Linked DNA regions of Homo sapiens. The protein of the gene in region 2 purifies or fractionates together with the protein of the main gene of each other region. This does not show direct contact. Each region holds a gene or a part of one and is shown on either strand. Other genes may lie near its edges. The genes, in order: ABLIM2 and KIAA1671.

The links.
Region 1: the proteins of KIAA1671 (region 2) and ABLIM2 purify together in Homo sapiens (co-immunoprecipitation; one large-scale study listed by IntAct). This does not show direct contact.

What each region holds. Positions count from the first base shown.
Region 1 is NC_000004.12:8,148,503-8,152,313, forward strand, and holds part of ABLIM2 (actin-binding LIM protein 2), read right to left. Parts: intron 1-3,811. UniProt on the Homo sapiens protein: May act as scaffold protein. May stimulate ABRA activity and ABRA-dependent SRF transcriptional activity.
Region 2 is NC_000022.11:25,042,995-25,046,805, reverse strand, and holds part of KIAA1671 (uncharacterized protein KIAA1671), read right to left. Parts: intron 1-3,811.

The DNA.
Region 1 (3,811 bases), on a different chromosome or scaffold from region 2:
CCTAATTCCCTGGGCCTCCGTTTGCTCACCTGTGAAGTGGGAATACTGGTAGTCCCGAGCAAGGAGCTCTGATGTAAGGATTATAGGGTGAAAGCACATCGCGGTGCTGGGTCCACACTGGGGAAGCGCGTAAGCCGTTCCCCCGTGGGCATGCACAGCAGAGTCCTGCTTGCCTGGAAGCAAATGCTACATCCCAAGGTGTCCATTGCCCCAAACCACACAGGAACTCAGAGTCGGAAAGATCCTCTAGGACAAGCCCAACCCCAACAGAGATGAGGAGGCCAAGGCTCAGGGGGTACATGGCCTGGGCTGGTTCCTGGACCCCCACCTCTCCATGAGACCACCCCTATCTCCTCCCAGAGCTGCTGATGTACCAAGAAACCTGGGCTCCGCAGGCACCCGGGAGATCAGGCCACGCCAGGACCCGGGATCTGGAGGCACCAGGGAGAGTCCAGCTGTGCCAAGGCCCAGGGTCCCCAGACACTACGGAGAGTCAGGCCACGCTGAGATCTGGGGTCCCCAGATACCAGGGCAGATCCAGCCAGAGTGTGAAGGGGTCTGTAGGGCTGGGGCCATCTGGAGGCTCCGGGGGAGATCCACTTCCGTGCCTCTTCCAGCTTCTAGGGGCACCCGAGTTTCTTGGTGTGGGGCCCCTCCCTTCATCCTCAGAGCCAGGCGTGGAGACTTCTCTCTCCTCTCTGCTGCCTCCTGCCTCCCGTTAGCGAGAAGCCTCAGGCCCCCTGAAATCCAGAGCAGTCTCCCTGTGGCAAAATCCTTCACATAGTCGCATATGAACAGTCATTTTGCCGCATGAGGTCACATAGTCACAGGGCCTGGGATTAGGACATGGGCACCTTTGAGTCCACTGTTCAGCCCCCCAACACCATCCAAGAGGAGGTATTTCAGAGAGGGCAGGTCCCAGCTCCAGGCTGCAGAGCAGGCAGGAGCAGGCACAAATCTCCACAGGAAACCCCAGCTTGGTCTGTGTCCACAGGTTCAGAGGAAGGAGGGAAGCAGAGGGCCTAGAGATGGGAAGAAAGCTTCACAGAGGCCCTGGAGTCCGGCAGAGCCTTGAAAGGGAGAGGAGGAGGGACTCCAGGGGAGCGGGGGCAGGCAGAAGGCGGCAGGAAGAATGCAAGGCTGTTGGGGGATCAGGGCAAAGACAGCACATAGTAGGTGCTTAATAAATAGTCGTGGAGGGACAGAAGGGACATTCTGGAAGAGCTCTGAGCCCTTGGGAGGCTGTTGACTGCTGGACACAGAGAAGGCCCGGACCTAGGCTGAGACTTCCCCAGCACCTCACACTCAGGACTGGCCCTGCGCCCAGACAGGACGGGGCCTATGGAGTAAGACCCCACACAGCCGGTCCCTCTGTGGGACGATTCAGAGGCTCCCAGTGGGACTGAGTCCCCACTTGCCAGAGTGGTGGCCCCCATCCAAATGCCCCCTCCTGGCTTCCCCTCCCTTCCCCCCTTACCCTCCTCACACCTCCCTCGTGCTTCCTGGGGTCACCTCCTAGGTAAACCACCTGCACCCAAGTTCCCACTGCACCTACTCAGGGAGCCTAAATGGAGAGAGTTGTGGGGCAAAGGGGTTGGAACATCATGAGGGCATTTGAAACTAGGCTGCCAGGTTGAAGGTCTGGATGCTCCTTGGAATTCTTCCTTCTGGGCACTTCGTGTCCAGCTGCAGCATCAACTGATGTCATTTTCCATGTGCGATCCCGGGGACACTGAGGTCTGCAGAAGCAGAGGGTCAGAGAGACAGGCCAGGCTGTCTTATGGAATGACGGCAGACAGATGAGGAGGCCATGCTGAACTGGGGACGGAGTTCCACCCATCACACATCCTCCACTCCTTGGGTGTTCACGAAATGCCTCCTCTCATTCTACCTGAGTGGCTTTCAGGGGAGCCAGTACAAGGCCCCATCGTGCCCTGAGGACAGACGCCAGCGAGGACAGAGGCAGCATGCTAGCCGCAGTGACACTGAGCACTTTTCTTGGTGCGCTGGCTGGACTCACATTTCCAGATCGTCTCTCTAACTCGTCTCTCTAAGCACAGAGAAACCAAAGTCCCAAACTTCCAGCACAGGGTGCGAGCTCCGTGCCGGAGGCGGGAGGAGCCACTGCTGCTGCCTGGGATGGGGGCTGCTCAGTAGAATGCAGCTAAAATGAAGCTTCGAGCTGAGACCGATGACTCAAGACACCACGCCTCCTGAGGATGCTGTGCCGAGAAAACCGGGAGCTGGGTGGCTCTCTGGAGACGGTGCTTCTCCTGGCACTGGGCTGCAGCCTTGTAACCAGGACTGAGATGGGGCTGGCAGGGGAGACAGCAGGACCAGAGAAGGGGAGGGGAAGCTATGAACCCAGCCTAGGGTGTGGCTGATGATGCCAAAGCGGCTCCCACGGGGCACGACGTCAGGTTTGTCCCTGAGCTGTGAAGGGTATTTACAGCTGTGACAAAGGCCATTCTGCCCGTTCCCTGGTGCCTGCCGTGCCCAGGCCCTTGACTCTCACTCAGCATCTCTGAGTCTACAGTAACCCCTCAAAAGCAGCTGTCATCACCTGTACTTTTTATGTGGGGAAACTAAGGCAAAGGGCATTTAAACAATCCGCTTGGAGAAACACACAACTAGCAAGTGACGATTGGGGCTGGAGCCCAGGTGTGCCCAGCCCCAAAGCCAGTGCATCTTCTGAGGCACCCAGACTGGCCCCCTCACATTTGGAAATGTTCAGCCAAGGGAAGTGACATGAAGCCACCCAGCTCGTTATCCGCAGCAGACCTGTTTGTTGTAGGCCTGGAAGCTGCTGATGGCGAGAAGCCCCAGAGCCAGCCCTGGCACCCACAAGGACCAGTGAGCGTCCCAGAATCCAAAGCCCCCTCCTCCGCCCCAGTCCTTCCCACAGACGCGAGGGACCCAGCTGCCCTCCTAGCTCGAGCTCCAGGCAGACATCCACAGAAGCTGCTAATCCACAGGCGGCAAGGCACCTCCCTCCACGCCAGAGACCCTCAGCGTGAGGCCCAAGTACTGCTCACCCAGCTGGGAGCATCTCGAGAGCCAGATGAGAAAGGTGGGCGCAGCAGGGTCCCTAAAATGGCAGCCAGGCCTCACACCCAAACAGTGGGCGGGGTGGGGCGGTGGTGTCAGAAGAAAGCAGGGTTGTACCCCGAGGATGGCAGTGGCCCTGTTTTTACAGATGGGTACACTGAGGCACAGAGGGACGATGACTTGTCCAAGGTCACAGAGGTCCAGGCGAGGGGCTGGAGACGCTGCTGGGCTGGGCTGTGTAAGCAGGGGGAGAGGCACTGCCTTCAGTGGAACAGATGGGCCCTGGGGGGATTGCAGGACTTGGGGTGGGGGTGGGGGAGTCGGAGCAGAGGGTCAGGGTTCCAGGGGGGCACATGGGCTCAATGTGGTGAAAGTCCTTCTCAGGCCCAGGCTATCTGAGGGTGAGTCACAGAGGCCATGCAATGACGCTAGGCAGGAACCCCCATAGGAGGCGGGTTTGGGTCTTGTCCTGCCTCCTGGCTCTGTGCTGGCAGGTCCCGCAGCTGGAAAATGGGAATAACACACCACGGCCCAGGCGAGAAGATGGGCTGTGTGAGACCCTCACCAAGAAGCGCCATCATGATGCCCCCAAACGGGCCAGGCTTTATCCACACCAACACTCAGCCACGCGTTATGAGGCAGCAACCAATCCCCCACAGCCACCGGCTAAAGCACGCAGGCAGGGGATAGGCAGACAGCGCCCGCCTAGCCAGGGATACGCGTGTTGCGGCTGAGTCGGGCACACTGGGGTTCAAATCCCAGC
Region 2 (3,811 bases):
TTTTAGGATTCCCTGTGTTACTCCCATAGGCAACCAAAGTTTCAACCACTTAGAGAAAGTGCTCTTTATTATGGAAAAGTGAAGCAAAAATAAAAATATGTATTTCTATGTGCTTGTATTTTCATAAAGAAGCCTCAAAAGAAAAAAAGGAATTTAAAAAAAAGGAATAAAAGTGATTACCGGGTGGAAGAAATGTAAGCATGGCAGGTATCAGGGGAATGTTTTTTAAGTATTTTTGGAGTGGAGCCATGTGAAATCGTCTCTCTCTTAAAACTAAAATAAATAATTTAAATAAATGAAATACTGTTGGGTCTGGGAAACAGTTTCTATAAATGTCTGTTAAGTGAAGAACAGAGAAAAAGAGAGGAAGGGATGGAGAGAGGAAGGGATGGAGAGAGGAAGGAATCACTTTAATGACCATCACACCCTTTTGGGCTGTAAATCAAGAAACCCTCACCCAAGGAACCAACCTTGTTTCTTTTTCTTCTTCTTTTTTTTTCTCTTGAGACAGAGTCTCGCTCTGTTGCCCAAGCTGGAGTGCAGTGGCACGATCTCCGCTCACTACAATCTCCGCTTCCTGGGTTCAAGCAATTCTCCTGCCTCAGCCTCCTAAGTAGCTGGGTCTACAGGCACCCGCCACCAAGCCCGGCTAATTTTTGTATTTTTAGTAGAGATGGAGTTTCACCATGTTGGCCAGGCTGGTCTCAAACTCCTGACCTCAAGTGATCTGCCAGCCTCGGCCTCCCAAAGTGTTGGGATTACAGATGTGAGCCACTGCACCCGGCACAACCCTGTTTCTAACACACACAAAAATTCAAATCCACCCAAATACCCATCAATGAGAGTCTAGGTTAAAATAGATTGGGCTCAGTCACATAATACAATACTTCGCAACCATTAAAAAGAGGAAGGGGAGGCCGGGTGCAGTGGCTCACGCCTGTAATTCTAGCAGTTTGGGAGGCCAAGACAGGTAGACTGCTTGAGGCCAGGAGTTCAAAACCAGCCTGGTTAACATGGTGAAACCCCATCTCTACTAAAAATACAAAAAATTAGCCAGGAATGGTGGTGTGCACCTGTAGTCCCAGCTACTCAGGAGGCTGAGGCAGGAGAATCACTTGAACCCGGGAGGCGGGGGTTGCAGTGAGCCAAGATCCTGCCACTGCACTCCAGCCTGGGCCACAAGAGCAAAACTCCATCTCAAAAAACAAAAGTAAGCCACAAGATTTTCTATAGACTGTTGTAGTTTTCCATAGAAAGCTTATGTATTTACCTATATCTAAGTCTATGCATTTACCTTTATCTATGTCTGTGTCTAGACCAGGGTTCCTCAACCTACAAACTGCAAACACTTGGGGCTGGAGCATTCTTTGCAGTGGGGGCTGTCTTGTGCCTTGTAGGATGTTGGGCAGCATGCTTGGCTTCTACCCATGAGACGCTAATAGCAACCTCTTCCCAGGGTGTGACAACAACAAAATATGTCTCCAGACACTGCCAAATGTGCCCCAGGGGCAAAATTGCCCATAGTTAAAAACCACTAATGGGCCTAGAGGGGTGTTCCCCAGTTTATGCACCACGCTCAATATTTAAAGGAGATTTTCTCTCTACACCATTTTTCTATAGTATTTCAAAATTTTTTTTTTTCTTTGAGACGGAGTCTCTCTCTGTCGCCCAGGCTGGAGTGCAGTGGCGTGATCTTGGCTCACTGAAAGCTCCGCCTCCCGGGTTCACGCCATTCTCCTGCCTCAGCCTCCGGAGTAGCTGGGACTACAGGCGCCCGCCACTGTGCCCGGCTAATTTTTTTGTAGTTTTAGTAGAGACAGGGTTTCACCGTGTTAGCCAGGATGGTCTCAATCTCCTGACCTCGTGATCCACCCGCCTCGGCCTCCCAAAGTGCTGGGATTACAGGCATGAGCCACCGTGCCCAGCCAGTATTTCACATTTTACGCAAGCATTCGCTACTGTTGCAATATGAAAAGCATGACAATTATGCATATATATATGATTGATAAGTGACTGTCAATATAGGAAAGTCCGAAAGGACATAAACAATGTAATGGTGGCTGCCTCTGGGGGAACACTCACCTTTTATTTTCTATACCCCTGTAAGGTTCAAAATTTTAACAACCAACATTTTTTCCTTCTGTATTGGTGTGTTTTTATTTTTTTTTTTAAGATCAAAGAACCAAAGATCTTTTGGCAGGAGACAAGAGAGAAACGGGAAGCTGGTCCAAGGCTTCCCAATCCCGTGGTGAGAAAACAGATCCCCTGACAACCAGCACTGCTGGGGCCTGCGTGCTCCAGGCAGGCATCCAAGGCTGGGCTGCGGGACAGAGCTGAGCCCAGGATCCCCCCTCCACAACATCCCGACTCCCCCACCACCAGCGGGCCCTGAGCAAGGTGCTGGCAAACATAAGTGTCGCATTTCCTTGGCCTCTTCCTTCTTCCACTGTTACCACAACATCAGCCTGCAGGTAGGGACAGATGAAACCCTTCTCAGGAAGCACACGGGGATGGCCCAAGTTCGGTGCTTTATTTCAATTCAGTCTAATAACAGTGCTTTGGGGCAGGAATCCCTGTTAACTCTGGCATGGCAACTGAGGCCAGGAGAGGCCAAGAGGCTGCTTTACACACAGCAGGCAAGTAGCAGCGTGGAGATTCAGATGCCAAGTCTGCGTGATCCTGCACATGGTGGTTGGAGAGCTTGGCCTCTTGGGAACAGACATGGGTTCAAAGCCTGACTCCATCACTTACCCACTCTTAACTGAAGGCAAATCCTCACCGCATGATCATTACTGACTGTATCCTAGAGTTTCCTTTCTGCAGCATCCACTTCCAGACTGGCCACCTAGTCCCTTTTACAGACAAGAAAACTCGGGTGCAGGGAGGTGAAAGGTTTTGCCCTGTATCACTCAGCTGCAAGTGGCAAAGGAAGAATCTGTGGCCTGATTTGCTGATGCCACATCACACAGGGCGGTGCTAAGTCCATTTCCACATGTCCCCCACAACATTCTACGCTCTTCCCACCTCCAAACCTTTGTCCATGCTGTGCCCTGCTGAGAATGCCCTCACCTCCCCTCATCAGCCCACCCAAAAGCATGGCCAACCCTCAAGCTTGGGCTGAGACCACCGACTCCTCCAGGACACCTTGGGCCACCTCTCCAGTGCCTCCCTCTGCACCCCATCACTCCCCAGTCTTGGATCACAATGGCCCATCTCCCCACAGAGATCAGAAGCTTCAAAGGGTGGTCCTTATGCCTCAGATTTCTTCCCCACCTTCGTGGTTCTTCACCAGAATGGTCTCCTAGAATATGGCCCAGTTGGGTAATTAAGGCCAGATTTGGGTTCAAATACCAGTTTTGTTACTTACTGCTGTGTGACCTGGGACAAGTTATTTCACCTCTCTGAGCCTCTGTTTTTTTCCCCCCATCTGTACAGGAAGATGATCACACAGCAGTAGGTAGTGTCAGCACTCTGCCCAACACTCAGGTATATGCCAAAGATCAAGAGAAGGGGCCCTCTGCCAACACCCTAGAGCCTCACTGATAGATATTTGGGTAGATTTGAATTTGTGTGTGTGTGTTAAAAACAAAGTGGCTTATTTGGGTGAGGGTTTCTTCACAGCTATTCTGCTTATGTACCCCCAAAAGGGTGTGCTTGTAATTAAAGTGATCCCTTCCTCCTTTCCTCCCCACCCCCCACCCTGCCATCCATTCTTCTCTTTCTCTCTGTTCTTCACTGAACAAAGGAAGCCAGATTTTCTTTCTTCTGCTGTGCATGGTGCCAGCCAGGATGGAAAAGTCTGAATGTTCAT